Linked DNA regions of Homo sapiens: regions 1, 2, 3, 4, 5 and 6 are each reported to be linked to region 7. The links are microRNA targets in miRTarBase. Many come from high-throughput screens and were not tested one by one. Region 7 holds a microRNA gene; each other region holds the end of a gene's coding sequence. Distances are from middle to middle.
What was found. The annotated mature microRNA hsa-miR-4733-5p reads AAUCCCAAUGCUAGACCCGGUG and lies in region 7 at 1,738-1,759, shown strand. An mRNA with a match to its seed (bases 2 to 7 or 8) in the 3' UTR can be bound and repressed. Matches are read on the target gene's strand: a 7mer-m8 pairs with bases 2 to 8, a 7mer-A1 pairs with bases 2 to 7 and ends in A, and an 8mer does both.

Region 1: the mRNA of MORN3 is a reported target of hsa-miR-4733-5p. Seed matches in the 3' UTR shown: 7mer-A1 at 1,227-1,233.
Region 2: the mRNA of APOOL is a reported target of hsa-miR-4733-5p. Seed matches in the 3' UTR shown: 7mer-m8 at 2,317-2,323.
Region 3: miRTarBase lists MYO5A as a target of hsa-miR-4733-5p. The part of its 3' UTR that is shown has no 7-base or 8-base seed match.
Region 4: miRTarBase lists ELMOD2 as a target of hsa-miR-4733-5p. Seed matches in the 3' UTR shown: 7mer-A1 at 1,395-1,401.
Region 5: the mRNA of GOSR1 is a reported target of hsa-miR-4733-5p. Seed matches in the 3' UTR shown: 7mer-m8 at 994-1,000.
Region 6: miRTarBase lists PRELID3B as a target of hsa-miR-4733-5p. Seed matches in the 3' UTR shown: 7mer-m8 at 1,669-1,675.

Annotation. Positions count from the first base shown.
Region 1 is chr12:121,650,143-121,653,142 of GRCh38, forward strand. MORN3 (MORN repeat containing 3) reads right to left here. Exons shown (of 6, transcript NM_173855.5): 4 at 2,933-3,000; 5 at 2,586-2,666; 6 at 1-1,502. The coding sequence ends at 2,592. Among named protein-coding and RNA genes, the nearest start is that of MORN3, 18 kb to the right of the region's middle. RefSeq lists enhancers at 931-1,432, 1,433-1,932.
Region 2 is chrX:85,087,053-85,090,147 of GRCh38, forward strand. APOOL (apolipoprotein O like) reads left to right here. Exons shown (of 9, transcript NM_198450.6): 9 at 538-3,095. The coding sequence ends at 626. Among named protein-coding and RNA genes, the nearest start is that of APOOL, 85 kb to the left of the region's middle.
Region 3 is chr15:52,311,209-52,314,303 of GRCh38, reverse strand. MYO5A (myosin VA) reads left to right here. Exons shown (of 42, transcript NM_001382347.1): 41 at 101-181; 42 at 456-3,095. The coding sequence ends at 608. Among named protein-coding and RNA genes, the nearest start is that of MYO5C, 17 kb to the right of the region's middle.
Region 4 is chr4:140,550,026-140,553,120 of GRCh38, forward strand. ELMOD2 (ELMO domain containing 2) reads left to right here. Exons shown (of 9, transcript NM_153702.4): 9 at 205-3,095. The coding sequence ends at 350. Among named protein-coding and RNA genes, the nearest start is that of UCP1, 17 kb to the right of the region's middle.
Region 5 is chr17:30,521,794-30,524,888 of GRCh38, reverse strand. GOSR1 (golgi SNAP receptor complex member 1) reads right to left here. Exons shown (of 9, transcript NM_001007025.2): 9 at 1-2,635. The coding sequence ends at 2,511. Among named protein-coding and RNA genes, the nearest start is that of GOSR1, 46 kb to the right of the region's middle.
Region 6 is chr20:59,032,203-59,035,283 of GRCh38, forward strand. PRELID3B (PRELI domain containing 3B) reads right to left here. Exons shown (of 6, transcript NM_016045.3): 6 at 943-2,924. The coding sequence ends at 2,805. It overlaps ATP5F1E (ATP synthase F1 subunit epsilon), which reads right to left and starts at 133. Exons shown (of 3, transcript NM_006886.4): 1 at 18-133. The coding sequence starts at 49. It overlaps SLMO2-ATP5E (SLMO2-ATP5E readthrough), which reads right to left. Exons shown (of 6, transcript NR_037930.1): 4 at 2,770-2,924. RefSeq lists an enhancer at 1-66 and a silencer at 87-376.
Region 7 is chr17:31,093,059-31,096,153 of GRCh38, reverse strand. MIR4733 (microRNA 4733) reads left to right here and starts at 1,729; the gene lies at 1,729-1,804. It overlaps NF1 (neurofibromin 1), which reads right to left and starts at 1,177. Exons shown (of 58, transcript NM_001042492.3): 1 at 785-1,177. The coding sequence starts at 844. MIR4733HG (MIR4733 host gene) reads left to right here and starts at 664. Exons shown (of 4, transcript NR_186435.1): 1 at 664-927; 2 at 2,663-2,781. It overlaps LOC124903974 (a long non-coding RNA gene), which reads right to left. Exons shown (of 2, transcript XR_007065704.1): 2 at 3,027-3,095. RefSeq lists silencers at 773-822, 863-932, cis regulatory regions at 788-1,098, 1,325-1,564, an enhancer at 1,167-1,184 and a promoter at 1,172-1,597.

The DNA.
Region 1 (3,000 bases), not on the chromosome of region 7:
GAACAGAGTTTGGGTGACATTCCTGAGAACACACAGCTCCGAGATTCACGCCCAGGCACTGTGACTCCAGAGCTCACCTGCCCATTATGCAAGAACATCTGATCTTGGCTGGGAGCAGTGGCTCACACCTGTAATCCCAGCACTTTGGGAGTCCAAGGCGGGCAGATCACGAGGTCAGGAGATCGAGACCGTCCTGGCCAACATGGTGAAACCCTGTCTCTACTAAAAATACAAAAAATTAGCCTTGGTGGCAGGTGCCTGTAATCCCAGCTACTTGGGAGGCTGAGGCAGGATAATCGCTTGAACCAGGGAGGCGAGGTTGCAGTGAGCCGAGATTGTGCCACTGCACTCCAGCCTGGGTGACAGAGCAAGACTCTGTCTCAAAAAAAAAAAAAAAAAAAAAAAAAAGGCCAGGCTCGATGGCTCACACCTGTAATCCCAGCACTTTAGGAGACTGAGCGGGGCAGATCACGAGGTCAGGAGTTCAAGACCAGCCTGACCAACATGGTGATACCCCATCTCTACTAAAAATACAAAAATTAGCTGGGCTCAGTGGCATGCGCCTGTAATCCCAGCTACTCAGGAGGCTGAGGTAGGAGAATCGCTTGAACATGGGAGGCAGAGGTTGCAGTGAGCTGAGATCGCGCCACTGCATTCCAGCCTGGGCAATAGAGGGAGACTACGTCTTAAAAAAAAAAAATCACCTGGGGAATTTTCTGAAAGCTCAGGCCTCACCCCAGATGAATTAGATGTGAACCTGTGAATCTCTGGGCATGGGACCTGGGCTTCCACAGCTTTGCAAAGTTTCCATGGGATTTCAAGGTTGAGAGCCCTGTGTTAGGCTGAGAAGTGGTCAGGAAATTTTATGATCTCCAATCTTGGCAGCCAGTGTGGCAGGATACAGGCCTTCTCTCTGGGTCATCTGGGTTATCTCACAGGGGACCTGCCATTTCTTTCTCTTTTTCTTTTCCTTTCTTTTATATTTTAAAATTTTTTTTTGTAGAGTCAGGGTCTTGCTATGTTGCCTAAGCTGGTCTCGAACTCCTGGCCTCAGGCAGTCCTCTTACCTTGGCCTCCCAAGTTCTGGGATTACAGGAATGAGCCACTGCACCCGGCCTAAGACCTGCCCTTACTCCCCCAAGCTAAACCCAGGCAGCCCAGCCAAGGCAGGTCTTCCCTCTTCTAAACCTGAAAGCCCTGCTGAGCCCCCTCGAGTGCCCCATCCTTATCCCATAGGCCCAGGCTTATACCACTTGGTTATTCTTTATTCTCATGCATTCCAGGATGAGATCAGAGAATGAAGAGGGTCCCGAGGACAGCCTGGGAGAGAAGCACCAGCCTTCCTATTGGCAAGAAATGACCCAGTGCTGGGGGTAGTGAGGGGCCCTATGAGGGTGCCGGGGTCATGCCTGGAGCTGCTGCTGACTCCTCCAGCCAGAGCCGCACTGGTCTGAGCGATCGGGTGACACAGGCTTGAATTTCTCCTGAAGCGTTTGTGTTCTCTGCAGGGGAGAGAGGGATGGTGGAGCTGGCATTTGAAAGACGCTGTTACCAATGTCCTCTCCTCAAACCCTCACATCATGCCCAGGAGGACTTGGACTGGACAAGACCCCACTGGACAGATGTGTAAATGGAGGCTGAAGGCCAACTGCCTTACTCAAGGGTGTTCAGAAGCCAGGAGACCACCTCCTTTCAACCCCGTGCCCAGCTCAGTTGTGTGGCCCAGGGTGCAAATAGAAGGTTTCAGGCAGGACTGGAATGCACTGGTCTTCAGTGAAATGGTTTGTTTGTTTGTTTATTTGTTTGTTTGTTTGTTTTTTGAGACACAGTCTCACCCAGACTGGAGTGCAGTGGCACAGTCTCAGCTCACTGCAACCTCTGCCTCCCAGGTTCAAGCAATTCTCTGCCTCAGCCTCCTGAGTAGCTGGAATTACAGGTGCCCTCCCCCACGCCCAGCTAATTTTTGTGTTTTTAGTACAGATGGGGTTTCACCATCTTGGCCAAGCTAGTCTTGAACTCCTGACCTCGTGATCCACCCACCTCGGCCTCCCAAAGTGCTGGGATTACAGGATTATAGGATTACTGTGCCTGGCGAGTTTTGTTTTTTTTGAGACAGAGTCCCATTCTGTCGCCCAGGCTGGAGTGCAGTGGTGCAATCTCAGCTCACTGCAACCTTCACCTCCCGGGTTCAAGTGATTCCCCTGCCTCAGCCTCTCGAGTAGCTGGGACTACAGGTGCCTGCCACCACACCTGGCTAACTTTTATATTTTTAGTAGAGATGGGGTTTCACCATGTTGGCCAGGCTGGTCTCAAATTCCTGACCTCAACTTATCCGCCTGCCTTGGCCTCCCAAAGTGCTGGGATTAAAGGCAAGAGCCACCACAGCCGGTCAAAAGGGGTTTTGAAGAGGAAGCGTCAAAAAGGACACCTGGGACTGTAGGAGGCAAGAAGCCTGCCCTCGATGGTCTTGCTCCCCCACTCCCCGACCCCAAGCCCTTTGGAGACCCCAGGAGATCTGTGCATTGTTCTGGGCCCTGGAGCAGCCTCAGCCACATCAGAACTTGGCAGGTGTGCCCACCCCTCACCTGGCATCAATCTCCTTCCTCTGTCTTCCTGAACATGGCCAAGGCCTCCGCCAGCACACCATCAGGGTCTAGGATTTTGACCTGGAGGGAAATACCAAGAAGTTGGTTTGGAGAGCATGGAGGACCCAGGCTGCCAGCCTTGACTGGCGCTGCCTGCCGTGTGGGGTGCTGCCAGCCTCATCAGGAGCCACCTCCCTTGCTAGGGATGCCCTGACTGAAAACAAAACCTTGTCTGTTCCCTGTCTGGGCTTGGCTGGGCCTGGCAGATCTGGCCTGGGCATGGCTGGGGATGCTGGCTTCTGTCTCTGTCTGGGTGTGGCCACAGGGCCCTGGTGAGGGCTGCCCACCTCAGGAATGGGGAACTGAGTGGGCTCAGGGGCCTCGTCACGGCCAAAGTCGATCATCGTCCCGCATT
Region 2 (3,095 bases), not on the chromosome of region 7:
GTAGCTTCTCATCTCACTTAAAGCCAAAATCTTTACCATGGCCCTGTGTGACCTAGCTTTCCATTGTCTTTTTGATCACATCTCCTATCATCTCACTGCCTTGCCGCCACCCCTACATACACCACATTTGTCTACTGTGTTTCAACCATATTGGTTCCTCAGACATACCTCAGGTCCATTACACTTGCCGTCTGCTCATCCTGGAAGGCATTGCCTGCTGGTATCTATAGGGTGCACACCCTCACCTCCTTCAGTTCTCGGCTCATGTATCACCTTTCCAGAAGGCTTTCCCTGGCTGCCCTATTTAAAATTACAAATCACCTAAGCACTCCATATATCCTTCCTTGTTTCATTTTTTCACATAGCACTTAACCACCATCTGATATATATTTAATTAGTTTGTCTGTCTCACCTAACTCAAATGTTAGGTCTGTGTCACTAGAGATTTTTATCTGGTTTGTTCGCTGCTGTCTTCCCAGTATCAAAAATAAATTTGTTAAGTGACTAATTTTTCTTTTCATTTTAATACTTTATCAGGTGCAACCCAGTTTATGCCTGACCCCAAGCTCATGGATCACGGGCAGTCCCACCCAGAAGATATAGATATGTACAGCACTAGAAGCTGAAGTAGACTGCATGCAGAGACTACACAGAAAACTACAAGATGTGTGGCGTTGCAAATAATGATGAAAATAAATCATGTAATGGGTAACTGATACATAGAGTATTACCTAAACCAAGTTTCTCCCTTACATTTCCAAATATGCCATTTGATAAATTACATAAGTGGTTAACACACAAACTGTGAATGCAGTGTAAACAATATTAAATGATTGATGAGGAGACTTAGGTAGAAGTATTAGCTTGCATTTGATGACCTTTAAGGGCACTTAAAAAAAAATGAAGACATGAATTCTAGTGAGATTAAAATCTAAAAATACATATATATATATGTATGTATAAATACATACATATTTATACATGTATAAATACGTATTTATACATATATGTATAAATACATATACATATATGTATAAATACATATACATATTTATACATATATGTATAAATACATACATATTTATACATATATGTATAAATACATACATATTTATACATATATGTATAAATACATACATATTTATACATATATATGTATAAATACATACATATTTATACATATAAACATATATTTCTGCTCTAGCTTTCCCAGATTAATGCTAGTTAAATTAGAATGGTGTATGGAAAGGTGTGTTTCCCTCTGTTTTTTTTTTTTTTTTTTTTTTTTTTTTTCCCATTTCCTAGAGCTGGAATAAAATATCCATGTTTTATGGGACTTGAGCTTGGCTTTGTCCCTTGGTTTTGTTAATGTTAATTCCTCTTAAATATCTAAAAACATCTCTACCTATTTGAGAGGGCCATATGCTACACAGGCTTCCTAATACTGCTTAGCAATCCTTCTACTGGTTCCTAAGTGGTTTACTATTGTGTTCCCTGGAAGAGGTATTACAAACGTTTTATTCTTCTCAAGCCTCTTAGAACTGTCAAAGTTGACTGTGCCTCCTATTTCATAGAGAAAAAACTAAATTATTAGATATGACCATTCCCAAAACTTCTTCCCATCTACCTTCAAGACTTACCTCTTTTCAGCCATGCATCCCCCTTTTCTAAGACATGCTTCTCTTTGTGTTCTTGACCTCATTCCTTCCCATCTAAGACCATATTCCACCCTGTTTAATTTCTAGTCTTCGGTTTCTCTTTTTACAGTGAGCAAATTAGAAGAATAGGTTAGAAGAATAGGGTAGTAGATACTGTAGTTTCTTTCCTCCACCTCTACATAGCTGCAGGTCTTCTCTGTCTTAAATCAACAATAACAAAACAAGACAAAAACCTTTCCTTAACTTGGCCTCTTCCCTTGAACTATTTTTTCTCTCTCCTTCCTATAATTGTTATACTTCTTTAAAAAGTAATTGTTACTTTTTGACAAAAGTAAATATTGTCCCTTTTTTCCCTACTTTCAAGTCCTCTCTGTCTTGTGACATTCTGGCCTCCATACCTGCTTAATTTTTTTTGAGATGGGGTCTTGCTCTGTTGCCCAGGCTGGAGTGCAGTGGCACAAACACAGCTCACTGCAACCTCCACCTCCCAGGATCAAGCAATCCTCCCATCTCACCCTCCCAAGTAGCTGGGACTATAGGCACCCGCCACCATGCCTAATTTTTTGTATTTTTGGTAGTGACAGGGTTTCACCATGTTGTCCAGGCTGGTCTCGAACTCCTGAGCTCAAGCATCTGTCCGACTCAGCCTACCACAGTGTTGGGATTACAGGCGTGAGCCACCGCACCCAGCCCCTACTTGAATTTTTATGTCATTATTGACTCTTCACCACTCTCTCCTTGAGACTCACTTATCCCTTTGCTCTCTATTTTTCCTGCTTTTGTTATTCTTCATTTTTCTTCTCTTGCTCTGAATCCCTTAAATGCTGAGGCTGCTCAAGTTTCATCCCTAGTCCTATTTTCTCATTCTATATGCACACTCATTTTTCATTTAACAGACTTCACTGGCTTCAGGCACCATTTGTTTTATTATTCATATTTTCAACCCCCATATCTCTCTAGTGCTGTAGACCTTTATTTCTACTTACTAGTTATATTCACCTAACATCCCATAGATATGCCAATGTCAATGTGCCTAAAACAAAATTGTCTCTACCTCCCGCTCCTTCAAATCTATTCTGTCTTCTCTAATCCTATAATTACTCTCCCTCAAGTCATCATCATCACTTTTCTGGGTTACTGTAATAGCCTTCAGGCTAATTTGCTCACTGTCAATCTTGCTGTCTCTCATTTCAGAATATGTTCTGCTTGCAGGTGACAGTAAACTAGTTAAACAAATATTTAATATTAGCTTAAGCAAAAAAAAAAAAAAAGGCCTATCCTATTTATAGCCTAGAATTAGGCAGTATAGGGTTGGGACAGTGGCTCATTGGTGCTATCAAGGACGTAGACTTTTTCTCTTTCCACTCTGTCCTCTACAGCATGCTGGTTTGTCACCTCATGGTCACAAGATGTCTGCTGTACCTCCAGGGAGCAGAT
Region 3 (3,095 bases), not on the chromosome of region 7:
TGAAATCTGTACGCACAGATCCTTTTAATTTTCCAGATTATAGGTACCCAGTGTGTATTTGATAATATGCCAAAAACTTTGATCATTTCATTTCTCACAGATTGTGAAAGTGTTGAATTTGTATACTCCAGTTAATGAGTTTGAAGAAAGAGTCTCTGTGTCGTTCATTCGTACTATACAGGTAAGAGCTCCCATCTTCTTCTTTGATTCACCAACACAGTCTTTTGAATGGACATTTTGTAATTTATTGAAGGATAATGTGTTATCTTTTATTATCTTATTTTACAATGCACTAACTTTTTTGATAATAGTTAATTGGGAAAATGAAGTGAGTTTAAAACAAAAGTAAACATTCTTCATTAGTTGAGAATTTGAGGGTAGAAATTTTAGTAGAAAAAAGTCTTTTAGATTCAAAGAACTGATGCTCTGTTTATTTTTTTTCCTAATCTTCTCAGATGCGTTTACGAGACAGGAAAGACTCTCCCCAGCTGCTCATGGATGCTAAACACATCTTTCCTGTCACCTTTCCTTTCAACCCATCTTCCCTCGCACTAGAAACCATCCAGATTCCAGCCAGCCTCGGCCTGGGCTTCATTTCACGGGTCTGAAAGTGATGTCCAGGCAAAAATTGACAATACATTTCTTGCCCGAAATAAGAACCCATTATTTCCAGTGAGTTACTGAAAATACATTTTTAAAGAGAAAGTACTGATTATCTCCCAAATGAGAAGTCATTAACTGGAAATCTCCCTAGAATACTTTCATCACTTTGGAAACAAAGATAGGCTCTTTCGTGCTGTGTTATCTTTATAGCAACACTCATCCTTAACCAACTAGGTACCGTGAGTTTACATACAGGAGAATGATGGAAGGAAGGGAGGAAGGAAAGGAGGAGAAAAATGTGTCTTCAGCTGGCAGCATTTATTTTAAATCCTTAGCACTGAGTTTGAATGGTATAAAAAGTATAACTTCCATAGATGAGCTGTTGTTAGGAAGGCACCAAAGAACCTCCTCTGCACTAAACAGGAGAATGGAAAGAAAAGTCTCCATTGAGTACATATCATGTCAGTTTAGTAATCAATTATGTTGATATTGTTAAACTGGTTCAAAGAAATAAACTGGCAATATGTAAAGTAATTCCTCATTTGTGTCACTATGATATAGAGATATTAAAGGAATGTTGGTTTGCTAAATAGTATAGATGTCCATTTGTACTATAGTTTACTGAGCATTTTAAATTGCTGCTACATACTGTCTTCTTAAAATGTAAGTGATATTAGGCACTACAATAAGTTTCTCTTGTCAATTCTGTTTACAATTCAATCAGATCACAGTTTTAACTGGATTATATGCAAATACCTACAGATTCACCTGCACAAGTAGCAGACACTGGAAAGTCATGTAGTAATATGACAAAATGCTTGACATTTAGGGGTAGGATTAGACAAAGTGGCTATTGTTGATGTCATTATTTATTCAGGATGTATTACATTGATGTGCTCATTAATTTTCCCTGGGTGGATATTGCGTCAGGGTACAGTGTTCTGTGAAGTGACTTATTTTTAACTACCAGATCTGATTCCTTCAGTGCATATTTTCAACCTTGACAGGTTTTCTCTCTTCTTAATTTATTAAGAATTAATCTCGGCTGGGCGCGGTGGCTCACGCCTGTAATCCCAGCACTTTGGGAAGCCAAGGTGGGCGGATCACTTCAGGTTAGGAGTTGGAGACCAGCCTGGCCAACATGGCGAAACCCTGTCTCTACTAAAAATACAAAAATTAGCCGGGCGTGGTGGCACTTGCCTGTAATCCCAGCTACTCGGGAGGCTGAGGCACGAGAATCGATTAAACCTGGGAGGCGGAGATTGCAATGAGATCGAACCACTGCACTCCAGCCTGGGTGACAGAGAGAGACACTGCCTTGGAAAAAAAAAGAATCTCACTCACTATCTAGAGAGGATTGTCAGAATATTCACGATTCAGGTCTTGAAACTTTGATTATGCAAAAGAAGGTATATAATAAATATTTCATTATGATTCAGTTTTTAAGGCTTTGCAGCTTCTATAAGTGTTCTCAGATGCCACTAGATAATTTTAAAAGCATCATATTAGAAATACTTTAAGAAGACTTATATAAGAAATAGAAGATTGTTGAATTTTACAGAGGATTTGGTTCATTAAGACCCAGATTCTGTAAGTTTTCATTCTGAAATTCTAGTTAAACATATTCACCATTTTTCTTAGGAATCTTATACAATAAATCCTTCAGGTTGCACAAAAGCAAATTATTAGTTTTCATTAGAAACTCTGGTTCTGAATTACAATCATAGGTTATATAAATTTAACTGTTAGATGGTCTATAAATCTTATTAAAATATGTGCAATATTTATGGAAGTCAAACAGCTTCATATCAGTGATAAAGATTGTTATTAAAAGATAAATACTGTCTGTTAATTTACATGGGCCTCAAGTTCCTCGTTTATAAAATAAGAGAGTTGGACACTGATTCTTAACATCTCCTCCACATTTAAAATTCTCTCTTCTCAGCCCTTAGATTCTAGAGAGAAAAAGCTGCAGTTACTCAGTAAGTCCATTCTCTGATGGAAAGACCAGTGTGTAGTGCCTGTCAATTCCTTAGGATTAATCAAATGTAAAATCACAAGTTTGTGTAGCTGTAACCTTTCTTAAATGTACATGATTTATGTACATGCTTTTAGAAGGTCCTACTATATTTGTATTATAATTAGTTTAAGTAATTTTTATTACATCATGTATTGCTTTATTCAGTTTGAATACATTTATTTATTTATTTGCAGTATCAACCAGAAACACTACCAATTGCATCAAATTCTCCCAGTTTTTCCTGGTTGTCAATGCGGTTTTCAATGCACAATTAAGTCATAGCCATTTGGTTCGTACCAAATGTGTCAGAATCTAACAGCATCCGATAGGCTGTAAGTTGGGGAGTTGCTAAGAAAATGCAACGTGGTACAGGCTGTCCGCCTCAGCCCTGGAAATCTCCCAGACCTCCCCCAGCTTCATCCTGTGTAGCACGACTCAACGTGCACCCTGAATCTTCTCAGGTCTTCCAGGT
Region 4 (3,095 bases), not on the chromosome of region 7:
TTTTTGAGACAAATAGTAAATATACACTAAATCGTTTATTAAGTCTTATTAAGTCCCTCAGGCTTCTAATAGTTTTGAGATTACTTTTGATTATTGTATTCTAATATGGAATTTAAAGGATGGTTATATACTTTGTAAAGATGAGACGGTTTGAATGTGATTTCAACATTGAGGATTAAATGTTTTGTTTTTCTTTAACTGCAGGTTATCTTGTCTATGAATTTGACAAGTTTTGGTTTGAAGAAGAACCAGAAAGCATTATGTATTTCAATTTGTATAGAGAGAAGTTTCATGAAAAGATTAAAGGACTTTTACTGGATTGTAATGTAGCACTTACTTTAAAAGTATAAATCATCCACTGTATCTTCTATTTCTACCACATTTTGCACATTCAACAGAATTTATATGTTGTAATAGGAATTATCTGATCAATTACACTCTTATATATAATTTCCTACAAAAATATTTCAGAAATTCTATTTAAGAAAGCTAGTGGACAATCAGTGTATGTTTACAATTGTTTATACACTGTTCTCCAAAGGTACCTTATCCTTCCAAAGATCCCCTCTGTAGAGTCATGCGAACTACAGTTTGGAACTTGGGACTTAGCCCGTTGGTGTAAAAGTATAAATCAGGTATTTGTATTAAATTGATTAAAATGTGTAAAATCAATTTTCGTTTTTATGTGTTATAGGGTCAAGTTGGTATCTTTTTCAAAGCTCTTTAAGATTTTTTTGGTTTTTAGTTTGGAAATGGCTGTTTTTAATTTTGTCTGATTTTTATTTCTAGGTTAATTAACAGCAAGTGTTTCTTTATGGTTTTCTTTGTTTGCATCTTAATTACATGTCATAACGTTGCTTCATTAGTAGCAAATAGAGCAGAGATACAGCAGAGAGAATAAAGAATTAGGGCCTCCTTTTGGGTTTCTGTGATTATTGAGCATAACTGATGAGAGAATGACAGTATTGGTGACTAGCTTTTTTGTTTTTAAATAACACACTTTAAAATGCCACAGTGTTATTTGAAAGCTTAAAGGCATTTTCTCATCTTCAGTATTTGCTTTTTATCAGTTGTAGAAAAGAACCTTAGTGTTTTCTTCTCTACCTATGTATGCTTATGAAACCGCTCTACCTACATATGAAACTTCTCTACCTATGTATGTTTACGAAAAGAGATGTATTTGCCAAGAAAATCTTGATTATATAAAAGACAAAAAGATTATAAAAGACAGTTTCTGTTTAAGTAAAACTGTCTTTGAAACTTAAGAAAGCTTAAGTTTTAAAAAAATCTCAGTTAAACATCATTGGTTTATTTGACTTACTGTTAACTCTTGCTTCTCTTTGACTCCATGGTGTTTTTAGATAACCATGTATGAACTTTATGTTAATGGTTTGTGGGATACTAAAATAGCTTGAAGATGACTTGATGACTGTGCATTTTATATAGTTTTATTCTCCTAAAATCTCAGGAGGGCAGCAAGTGCTGTCAACGATTATATAGTGATGAGATTTTTATGGGAATGATTTCTTCTTGGTGCGTTTTACACATTTGTACTGATAGCAAAACTAAAGTTTAAAGCAGCAAAGTTTAAGTTCTCCTTAAATCCTACAGAAACCAACCTTTTAAGGACATAATTTCATCTAAAACATGACGATATTTAGCACACCTTTTAATGTGGGTATATATCAAGTGTTTAAGGACTGGCTAGTATGTGATAGAGCAAGACCTGAGACTTTATAAGTATTTGCTCGTGTCTGTTGACAGACCTCTTTCTTTCAAACTTGTTAGAAGAGTGGTAAGACATATCCAATTGGAAAATAAGATGCAGTGTTGTATAGCACATACATTTAAAGTGCTTGCGTTAAAATTAGTTTCTCAATAAGATAAAATTATTTTAAAAATTTGGTTCACTTTATTACAATAGTGGCAATTTAGCTTTTCAGTATTACAGGAATTTAAAAATTGGTTTCTTGTAGGGGACATCTCAACTTTGGGAATATCTTCACTTAATTTTTAAAAAATATTTTCATGCTTTATTGTCCAGCTATACAATATGTCGCAAAATCCTGACAAGTTCATTGTATTAAGGTATTAACTATTACATGGAAAGCAATTCTGTTCATCTTTTGATGTTTGTGTTGAAAATGCTTATCTTTGTGTTTTGATCTTCCAACAGCTGAGAGCTTGAACTGATTTAAACATTTGTCAATATACTTAAGAATGCTTTAAGTAAAGAAGGGGAAAATTTTAAGTAAGTTTTTTCCCTTCTAGGAAGAAAAACTATGATGATGTTAAGAAAATGTCATTATAGAGCTTGCTCAATAATATGTTCTTTAAATCCACCTCCATTTGTACATTATAGGTATCATTCTGTTTTTGCTTAAAATAATCTGCAACCATTTCAGATAGTTTTACAGCAAATTGATCTAAAAGCCACTAATAAATTCTAGGGTTTGAGTCTAGAAGCCAAGCAAACTGTCACCAATGTCAGTTGTAAATTAGAATGCAACATGAGGCTTCAGACTCATGACAATGATATACATGAAAACAAAAATATAATTGTGTCTACCTTCCTACTTTCCCTTTTGACATATGTAGTTGGAATTTTACATAGTCTTAAAATCCATATTTAGAATCTTACCTGTTTCTATAATAATTAGTAAAATGCCAAAGTAGTGATAGAATATTGTGGCATTGAAGTAGCCGAAAAATTGTTAGTTTTAGCATCAAAAAAGTAAATAGATGTTGAAATGAATTTTTGTATGTGCCAGGTTGAAGAGAGTGTGCCAGTGACAGGAAGTAGTCTAAAAAATTAACAGTTATGGTTTTAATAGGATCTGAAAGACAATCTTTAAAGAAATGGGAGAAATTGGGGGTATCAGTGAACCTATACCAACCTCTCTTTGTACATAAATATGGTGATGTAGCTAGATATAAAAATCAGTGTCTTACTGGCACCATTTACAGTTTAGAAAACAATCTTTTTCTTAAAAATGCCCATCTGATTTCTATTTTTAGGAGCTACTTGGATTTGTATGTATTTTTTCTACGTGAAAATATATGTACTCTTCACTTTTGTTCCAGTACTATAATTG
Region 5 (3,095 bases), 570 kb from region 7:
GATGTTTGGAAATGCTTAACAGATTTGGAATGAACAGATTTTCACAGAACTCAGGATTCCTGGTACATCAGGCAGTAGTCCTTAAACTTTTGCCCATACGTTGTGGAGCATTTACAAAAGCAATTCTCTGGACAGTGAGCCCTCAATGCCTTTTTATATGTGGCTTCTTGAATAGATCACATTAGAAATTGAGCAGTCCCCTTCCTCAGCTACCAGTGTCAATGCTGGTATGAGGAGGAGCAGTGGGGGCACTGACAGACACTGGTGATTCGTTTCTTTTATCATAGTGGAACTGAGATTTCATTTCTTTTCAGTAGAAAATATTAATCCAAGGGAAGAATTAAAAAAAAAATGGAAACAATGACTGGTGCCTTAAATATAAGACTGTCATTCTTGATGTTTTTCCAGCAATACAGTTAACCCCAGTGTACTTGTAATTTAAAAGAAAAAGACAGTTTTACAGTGATCTCCATTTCAGACAACCTCAAACATGCTGAAGCTGGTCCATCAGCATCTCAAAGAATCTATGAAAAACAGAATTTTCCCCAAATATCAACAGAGTTGAGGAGACAGAGTAGAAATCTATAGCACAGATCATCAAGAAAGAACTTGTGATTTCTCATTATGAGTGTAAAATAAGAGGACAAGAATTATTATTATATTATTTTTTTTTTAATTGATCATTCTTGGGTGTTTCTCGCAGAGGGGGATTTGGCAGGGTCATAGGACAATAGTGGAGGGAAGGTCAGCAGATCAACAAGTGAACAAAGGTCTCTGGTTTTCCTAGGCAGAGGACCCTGCCGCCTTCCGCAGTGTTTGTGTCCCTGGGTACTTGAGATTAGGGAGTGGTGATGACTCTTAAGGAGCATGCTGCCTTCAAGCATCTGTTTAACAAAGCACATCTTGCACCACCCTTAATCCATTTAACCCTGAGTGGACACAGCACATGTTTCAGAGAGCACCAGGTTGGGGGTAAGGTCATAGATCAACAGGATCCCAAGGCAGAAGAATTTTTCTTAGTACAGAACAAAATGAAAAGTCTCCCATGTCTACTTCTTTCTACACAGACACGGCAACCATCCAATTTCTCAATCTTTTCCCCACCTTTCCGCCTTTTCTATTCCACAAAACCGCCATTGTCATCATGGCCCGTTCTCAATGAGCTGCTGGGCACACCTCCCAGATGGGGTGGTGGCCAGGCAGAGGGGCTCCTCACTTCCCAGTAGGGGCGGCCGGGCAGGGGCGGCCGGGCAGAGGCGCCCCCCACCTCCCTCCCGGACGGGGCGGCTGGCCGGGCGGGGGGCTGATCCCCCCCACCTCCCTCCCGGACGGGGCGGCTGGCCGGGCGGGGGGCTGACCCCCCCACCTCCCTCCCGGACGGGGCAGCTGCCCGGGCGTAGACGCTCCTCACTTCCCAGATGGGGTGGCTGCCGGGCGGAGGGGCTCCTCACTTCTCAGACAGGGCGGCTGCCGGGCGGAGGTCTCCTCACTTCTCAGACGGGGTGGCCAGACAGAGACGCTCCTCACCTCCCAGACGGGGTCGCGGCCGGGCAGAGGAGCTCCTCACATCCCAGACGGGGCGGCGGGGCAGAGGCGCTCCCCACATCTCAGACGATGGGCGGCCGGGCAGAGACGCTCCTCACTTCCTAGATGGGATGGCGGCTGGGAAGAGGCGCTCCTCACTTCCTAGATGGGATGGCGGCCGGGCAGAGGCGCTCCTCACTTTCCAGACGGGGTGGCGGCCGGGCAGAGGCTGCAATCTCGGCACTTTGGGAGGCCAAGGCAGGTGGCTGGGAGGTGGAGGTTGTAGTGAGCCGAGATCACGCCACTGCACTCCAGCCTGGGCACCATTGAGCACTGAGTGAACGAGACTCCGTCTGCAATCCCGGCACCTCGGGAGGCCGAGGCAGTCAGGCGTGGCGGCGCTCGCCTGCAATTGCAGGCACTCGGCAGGCTGAGGCAGGAGAATCAGGCAGGGAGGTTGCAGTGAGCCGAGATGGCAGCAGTACAGTCCAGCTTCGGCTCGGCATCAGAGGGAGACCGTGGAAAGAGGGAGACCGTGGGGAGAGGGAGAGGGAGAGGGAAGAATTATTTTTATTCACAATCCAATCTGGCAGCTAAAAGAAAAGCAGTCTTTGGATGTAGAAACCTGGTTTTCTGAAGAGCCCAGCTGTAAGACCTGGCTTGTCATTAGGCTTCAACACTATCATGGAAACACAGAAAACTCTGTTTTTGATTGGTTTACCTGCCTCCTAGGGAGACAAAAGCAACTGAAAACCTTTTTTTTTTTTTTTTAATTAAAAACAGAAAAATGTGTTAGAAAACACAGCACAGAGAAACTGTGGCTTCAGCTCAACCTGACCATGTCACAGAGTCCATCACTGTCAGTCTTGCATTCATCCTGCTGGTCAGGCTAATTATCAAGACAGTCAACTTCTCCCTCCGATGTTTCCTTATTCCAGACCAGGGTGTGAAAGCGGTGGCTGTCAAGAGTCCCTGAAGATGTCCCATCAATGGAACGCATACAGCAGCAACAGGATGGTACAGATCCCAATAACACCCCCTAGGATGAGCGAGTCCCGCCGCTTCCTCAGGTTGATCCTCTGGATCAGGCTGTTTACAGCAGGAAAACGATCTTTGGGAAATCTTTATTAAGGTCATATTTGGAAGAAGCCTCTCTGGCGAAAAGTCGTAGGAATCACAAAAATAGAGATCAGTGGTGTCTAGAAACAGTGATGAAAGGCATGGGGAAGAAACTCACACCAAGGGAATCTTTAGCAGATGCAGTTGCCCAAACCGGGAACGCGCTGCGGCTCAAGGCCCCTAACCAATACACATCTCCCAGTCTTGTGTGTAACACAAATAAGAATAGTAATAGAGAGAGAGGGAGAAGAAAAGGACGATGACAGTTCCCAAGCACTGAGGGCTTACTGCCAGGCTTCAGGTCAGGGTGGGAGCCAGCGTGGCCAGGAATGGAGGAACTCTGGCAGGGAGGCACAGGCATAGCCAGCTCCCATCGCCACCACCACCCATTTCCCTCCCTTTCCTCATTTTCCTTCTCTTTTCCTCTTCTCTCAGGAGACTGGGGAGTTCTG
Region 6 (3,081 bases), not on the chromosome of region 7:
TGGAGGCCTGGGCCTACCTGAGTCCAGCCTGTCTCCAGTAGGCCACCATGCTGTAGCGAAAGCGGAGCTCGTCGGGCCGAATCGCCAAGACGCCGGCAATGTCGGCTCAGCCGGGCGGTTCAGCCGCAGGAAGATCAGACCACAGAAGCGGAAGAGGCGGGGCGTGCGGACCTGCCAATCACCGCCTCCTACCCGGCCCCGCCCCTGAGCACGGCCCCTGCTGCCCTGCCGCGGAAGCCCCCCGGCGCCGGGAGCCAATGGGCGCGCGCGGTCTGGACTGCGGGTGCCAATCCCGGGGCGGGCCGGCCGGCCGCGCCCACCTATTGGCTCCAAGAGCTCCCGGGGCGTGTGTCCCCCGACCTTCCGTATTACCCCGGCGGGGACGACGGGGGCAAGAAGGCCGGGGTGTCCCCGCTCGCTAAGGACCACTGAGCCGCGTGCTTTCGGGAAGCGAGGACGCGAGGCGGCGCGGGCACGGCCGCCCCGAGGGCCTGGCTTTGCGCCCGCTTCAGGGAAACGGCGCCGGCTTTTTTAAATCTGTGGACAGACAAGCGTGTCCTGAGAGCTGAGATTTAGAAAGGCTCTTAGGGCACCCCCTTTCTCGGAGTGACACTAAACCCTGGAAACCCAGTGGAGGACCCCCTAGCGTTTTCTGTAGTTCTAGGACCTGCTTCCGATGTGCGACAAGACGGAGGGTAAGGCAACAGTTGTCACTGTTGCCCGGAATGGATGGGAAGAAAAATGTGAGGAAAACCCACTGGAGGCACAGGGAACTGCCAGGCGGCCGGGAAAATGCTCATCTCAGAGCCTGTGATTTAGAGAAACTAACCCAACGCAGTGAAGGCTCACAGTCTAGGAATTAAAGTGTTTCTCTCATAAAGAAAAAAAAGCCTTTGCCCTTCACCTTTAATTACTAAAAAGAAATTATAATCAGGAAAAACATCACTTAAAAGAAAGTTTTTATTAACAAAAGTTTTCCTTAATTCACATTTCAACTTTATTAAATAGTCCAAGGGTTTCATTTATGAACACTTATTCCAGTTTAGTTCTCTTAAATTCATTTGCTTGTTGTGCATTTATGTTTAAAAAGGTAACTAACTGCACTGGAAAATGAAAATTTATAGTTTTATCAATAGGTCAGTTTTTAAAAAATCAAAGGATAAGGATTTAAAAATATTAGGGCATTACACCTTTTTCAGAACAAGGATAATTTACAGAAATTATACAAAGCAGATTTTCATCAAATATCAATTATTTAGCGATGTTTTATTTAGCTGAAATGTTATTTCACTTGTAAAAACTATCTCCGGTTACAAAAAAAAATCAGAAACCTTATTAAATTTAACCTGCTTTTACAAATGTCCTAAGAAGTCTTAAGCTAAACAAAATTTAAGTAGGAAAACGATAATTTAAAAATAGTGTGTTATACTATTTCTGTGGTTTATGTACATATATTAACTGGTCTCTTGGATAGGAAACATGACTAGAAGTTTATCACACTAAGCACTGTAAAATAAAGGCAAGAGCTAATCATCTTCTAGCAAAAATAGTCTCTATGCAACAATTGCAAATGTCAAAGCTATTATTTAGTAGTTAATTGCCTGCTACAATACATAAAACAAAGTACATTTACTGGATTGTTTTTCAGTTTGCAGCTGCCCTCTTGACATCCCAAATAAGGAATTCCCGTTAAGTAAAACCTGCAGTGCAATTCACTCAGTGGTTAGTTTCAGGCCAAGCCTCCCCCTACCATTATGCTTGTTCTTCCCCACCGCCCCCAAATCCTGCAGTGGCACCATATTATTAAAAACACTAAGTACCTGGGATTTATGCCTCAGAGCAAGACATCATTTGAGTAATTTCAAATGATACACAGCTCCTTCATGTAAAAAAGATGTTTTGTGGTCACAATTACTTCAAAAAGTAATTATATTCAAATAACCTGACATATCATGCCTTAGCAATTACAAAACCATGATTTTGACACATGGCAATTTTTAAGTTAGGCAAATGTAAAATGCTAAAAGATGTGAACAGCTGTTCTTCTGTTTAAGTTAGAGCACTGCAAAACTCAGGTAATGACTTTATTTTTTTCAGTTAACATAACCAGCCCACGATACAGCATACTAAATCACAAAGTACAAATCCAAGGAAGTTAATACCTTTACTAAGTTACAAAACTTGGGCAAATCAATACAGTACTCTTTTATAATGAAACCATACTTTTGTTGGAGTCATGTTACTTTAGTGATAATTTTCACTCCAAAAATATTTAAGTACCAAATCAAAACACTGGTTTTTAATGGTGGTTTATAGCATAGTAAGGTATTTTACACAAAATATATTTTAAAACTACACAATTTCTCCTTTTAAGTGAGCTCCCTTGTGCAAGCTGCTGAAGTGTACAGCAGCAGGGCAATGGGCGTCTATAGGAGGTGGCTCTGCTCTGTTCTGGGGTTGGTCCAAAGTCAGGTGGAGTTCCAATGTATGAAAAGCTTGAAAAATCTACCTTAAGGAGACTGAATATCAATACCAGTTTCCAAGGAGTTCTTGTTGAATTTTCACAGAAATACTGGAACCCTCAAAATCAGATAGTAATTTCAAACAACATTAATTTCAGATGATCCCTTTTATTTAGAGGCCCTGCATCTGTTTTGATCAAGTCACATAGCCTTACACCAACTTATCAAAAAAAAAAAAAAAAAAACTACCCAAAATATAGTTGTATTTTTAAAATAACAAATAAATATATAGTCAGTTTGGAGAGACCTGGAGTACCCGATGTTGTCTACCAACTGTCACGATCACTTCTCTGCAAACGCTGCTGCTGCCATTGGAGTCCTTATGGTTCCTCTTGCTGAGGCTGTCAGTTCTTCAATCTCAGCATTTAATTTATGTATTACCCATTCCATTGCTTCTCGGCCCTTAAAAAAAATCCAATACATTTATTGTTACTGAGGGAGAGCAAAGGCATATATCGAACTAATGACACACCAGGAAGTAACAAGGGGCGTGACAAGTTTAACTCAATCTCAGGATGACAGATCGTTTTTGTCCTGGCTTTTTCTAATGTTATTTAGC
Region 7 (3,095 bases):
GCAAAAAAAAAAGGGGGGGGGGAAGAGACTGCAATTATCAAGGAAGGGGAAGATATTTCAGAACCACGGTTTCCACTGCAAACGGCAATAAAAAAAAAAGGCAGTCTGTGTCATCAGGATATGGGGGACGACGTTGTAGGGCATCACAAAGATGTGCAGTGAGTGTGCACTTGAAGCTCTCGGGGCAGGATGAGACGATGGAGCAGAAAGTAAGAAAACCTGTGCCTTCCTTGCTTTCTTCTGCTCTTCCCCCTCCAGGAGAGGAAGCTGAAGAAACTGGGGGAGGGGCGGAATGTTATCGTTCTCCTATTGAGGGTATATAAGACAGGCCTTAGGGTTCGCTCGTCCCCAGTTAGGAGGGTCACGGAGGGAAGAGGAAGAGAGAACCCCTAAACGTTACCCACCTCTGCTCAAAAACAAAAGTAAGGGGGTAATTATTAAATCCAGATGGCGCGCCCCTAAAGGCGCCCCCAGGTCACTCATCCCCATTTCCAAGCGGAAGGGCTGGGATAAAGGGGATGGAGGGTCGGAGGCTGGTCAGGGACAAGGCCCCACCCCCCGACTTAGGAGGGAAAGGGTGCCCAAGCTCCCAGCTGTCCCCTCCTACCCCTCACCTCCCGCCTTGGCCACCCCCACTTATCCCCCCTTCCCTTCTCTTCCCTTCCCTTCCTTTCCTCCAGAGCCTGAGGCAGCCGCGGGGGAGGCGGCCGCTCCTACCTCCCCTCACCTACTCTGTCCCCACCCCCACTCCGCTCCCACCTCCCGCCCGCCACGGGCCGGTTACCTGCTCGTCGAAGCGGCTGACCACGGCCTGGACCCATTCCACCGGCCTGTGCGCGGCCATGTCCTCCCCGCGGCCGGGGGGCGGCGGAGGGAAGGGTGGGCCGGCGCCCTGGGCCGGGAAGAGGGCGGGGAGCGGAGGCTGAGGTGAGGGAAGAGGCAAGGAGAGGGTCTGTGGAGTGCAGGCTCCCAGTGTTCCCACGGGGGTGGGGATGGGGGGTCAGCGCCGAGCGGGAGGGGGAGAGGGAAAGGGGGCGTTGGCAAGGAGGCTGGGGGGAGGGGGATAGGGGAAGGGGACCCGGGGAGGGGAGGGGGCCTCTTGGTCGCTCTCCCCACTAGCGCCGTCTCCCCACAGCCATCACAGTCCGAGACGCCGCCATGACACCCCACCGGAAGTGGGATCCTTTCCACGGCCCGGGGAGAGGGAGCGCGAGCGAGCTAGAGATTGAGAGCGCGGCTGGGAAAGGGGAGGGGGAAGCGAGAGGGAAGGCGGCCTGCCGCGCATGCGCCCGCGCCGGCCGGTTTCATTAATGAAAAAGCGAGTCCTCCTGGAGGTGACGTCATCTAACTCCTCTGGGCCGTCTGGCGAGCGTCCCTCACCGCCGTGGGGCTCACCTAGACTGGCGCTGGGCTCAGCTGGCGAGTGCCAGAGCTGACCCGGGAGCATCCACTCCCATCCCCACCGCCCCCTACAGCTGTCCCCTCCCCCGCCGGCCTCCGGGTTTGGATTGCTCCCGGAGTTGGAAGTTAGGGCGCCCTGGGGCTAGCCTTTCTCCCAGCGCGCGGATCTCTGCCGCTAATCTCCTGGGGAGGCTGTGCTCTCAGCTTAAGCTCTCAGAAAAAATAAGGTACACGACCTCCGATTTTCAGGTTCTTCGTAGCTTGGTAGACTGCTGAGAAACAAAAAAGGAAGGCCAAAGAGAGATTCCGTGATTTTTTTTTTTTAGAGGTCGCTTAAATCCCAATGCTAGACCCGGTGGCAATCAAGGTCTAGCCACCAGGTCTAGCATTGGGATTTAAGCCCAGCTTTCCTCTGCAAAACTCATAGCCATCCAAGTTAATATAACTATTGCACAGTTGATGAGAGATTCAAGTTTCACCACCCTCAAAACACCTTTAAGGCCTTGCATTCATTATTAATTCAATATATTCATCGTCTTATTTAAATCCTTGAACAAACCTTTTCAATACATATCATTAACTTCATGAACTGATGAATACGTCACGTCCCCACCCCCGTGGGAACGCTGGGAGCCTGCACTCCTCCCTCAGACCTTTGATTTGCCCAAGGTCTGAGTTGACAGGTGGCAAAGTCAGGATGTAAACCAACGTGGTTTAACTCCTAGAACAATAGAGGTAGACTATGGGTCTCCTAAAACAAAGTCCTTCCCTATACCTCCAATACCAGAGTTGAAAGGATTTCATGTGTAATTGGGTTGTGCCAGTTTTCCAGGAAGAGGATTACATCCAAAACAACGGATAATCTATGTCTGACATTGGACTTTGGAATGACTAATTTTTTTTTTTTTTTTTTAAGACAGAGTCTCACCCTGTCACCCAGGCTGGAGTGCAGAGGCGCGATCTCGGCTCACTGCAACCTCCGCCTCCCGGTTGAAGTGATTCTTCTGCCTCAGCCTCCCGAGTAGCTGGGACTACAGGCATGCGCCACCACAGCCGGCTAATTTTTGTATTTTTAGTAGAGACGGTGTTTCACCATATTGGCCAGGCTGGTCTTGAACTCCTGACCTCATGATCCGCCCACCTCAGCCTCCCAAAGTACTGGGATTACAGGTGTGAGCCACCGCACCTGGCCTGGAATGAGTAATTTTAAAATTTGTCTTCCTCGATACATTTTACCTAGGCAAATGTTTTTGTTTTTCAGAGACAAGGTCTGACTCTGTGCAGTGGAGTGCAGTGGCTCAATCATAGCTCACTCCAGCCTCAGACTCCTGGGCCGAAGTGATCCTCCCACCTCAAGCTCCTGAATAGCTGGGACTACAGGTGAGTGTCACCCTGCTTTGGCTAATTTTTTTTTTTTTTTTTTTTTTGGTAGAGACACAGTCTTGCTATGTTGCCCAGGCTGGTCTGGAACTCCTGGCCTCAAGTGATCCCCCTGCCTTGGCCTCCCAAAGTGCTGGGATGACAGGGGTGAGCTACCACACAGGCCCCTAGGCCAATGTTAAAATGAATTTACACATTCCAAGCACGCGCTAATCAGCCAGTTAAGCCACACAGACACTGGGTGATAAGGGAGAACAAAACTAGAATTTTAATTTTCCTACAGAAAAGCCACAAAGCCAGTAGCCCACATACAG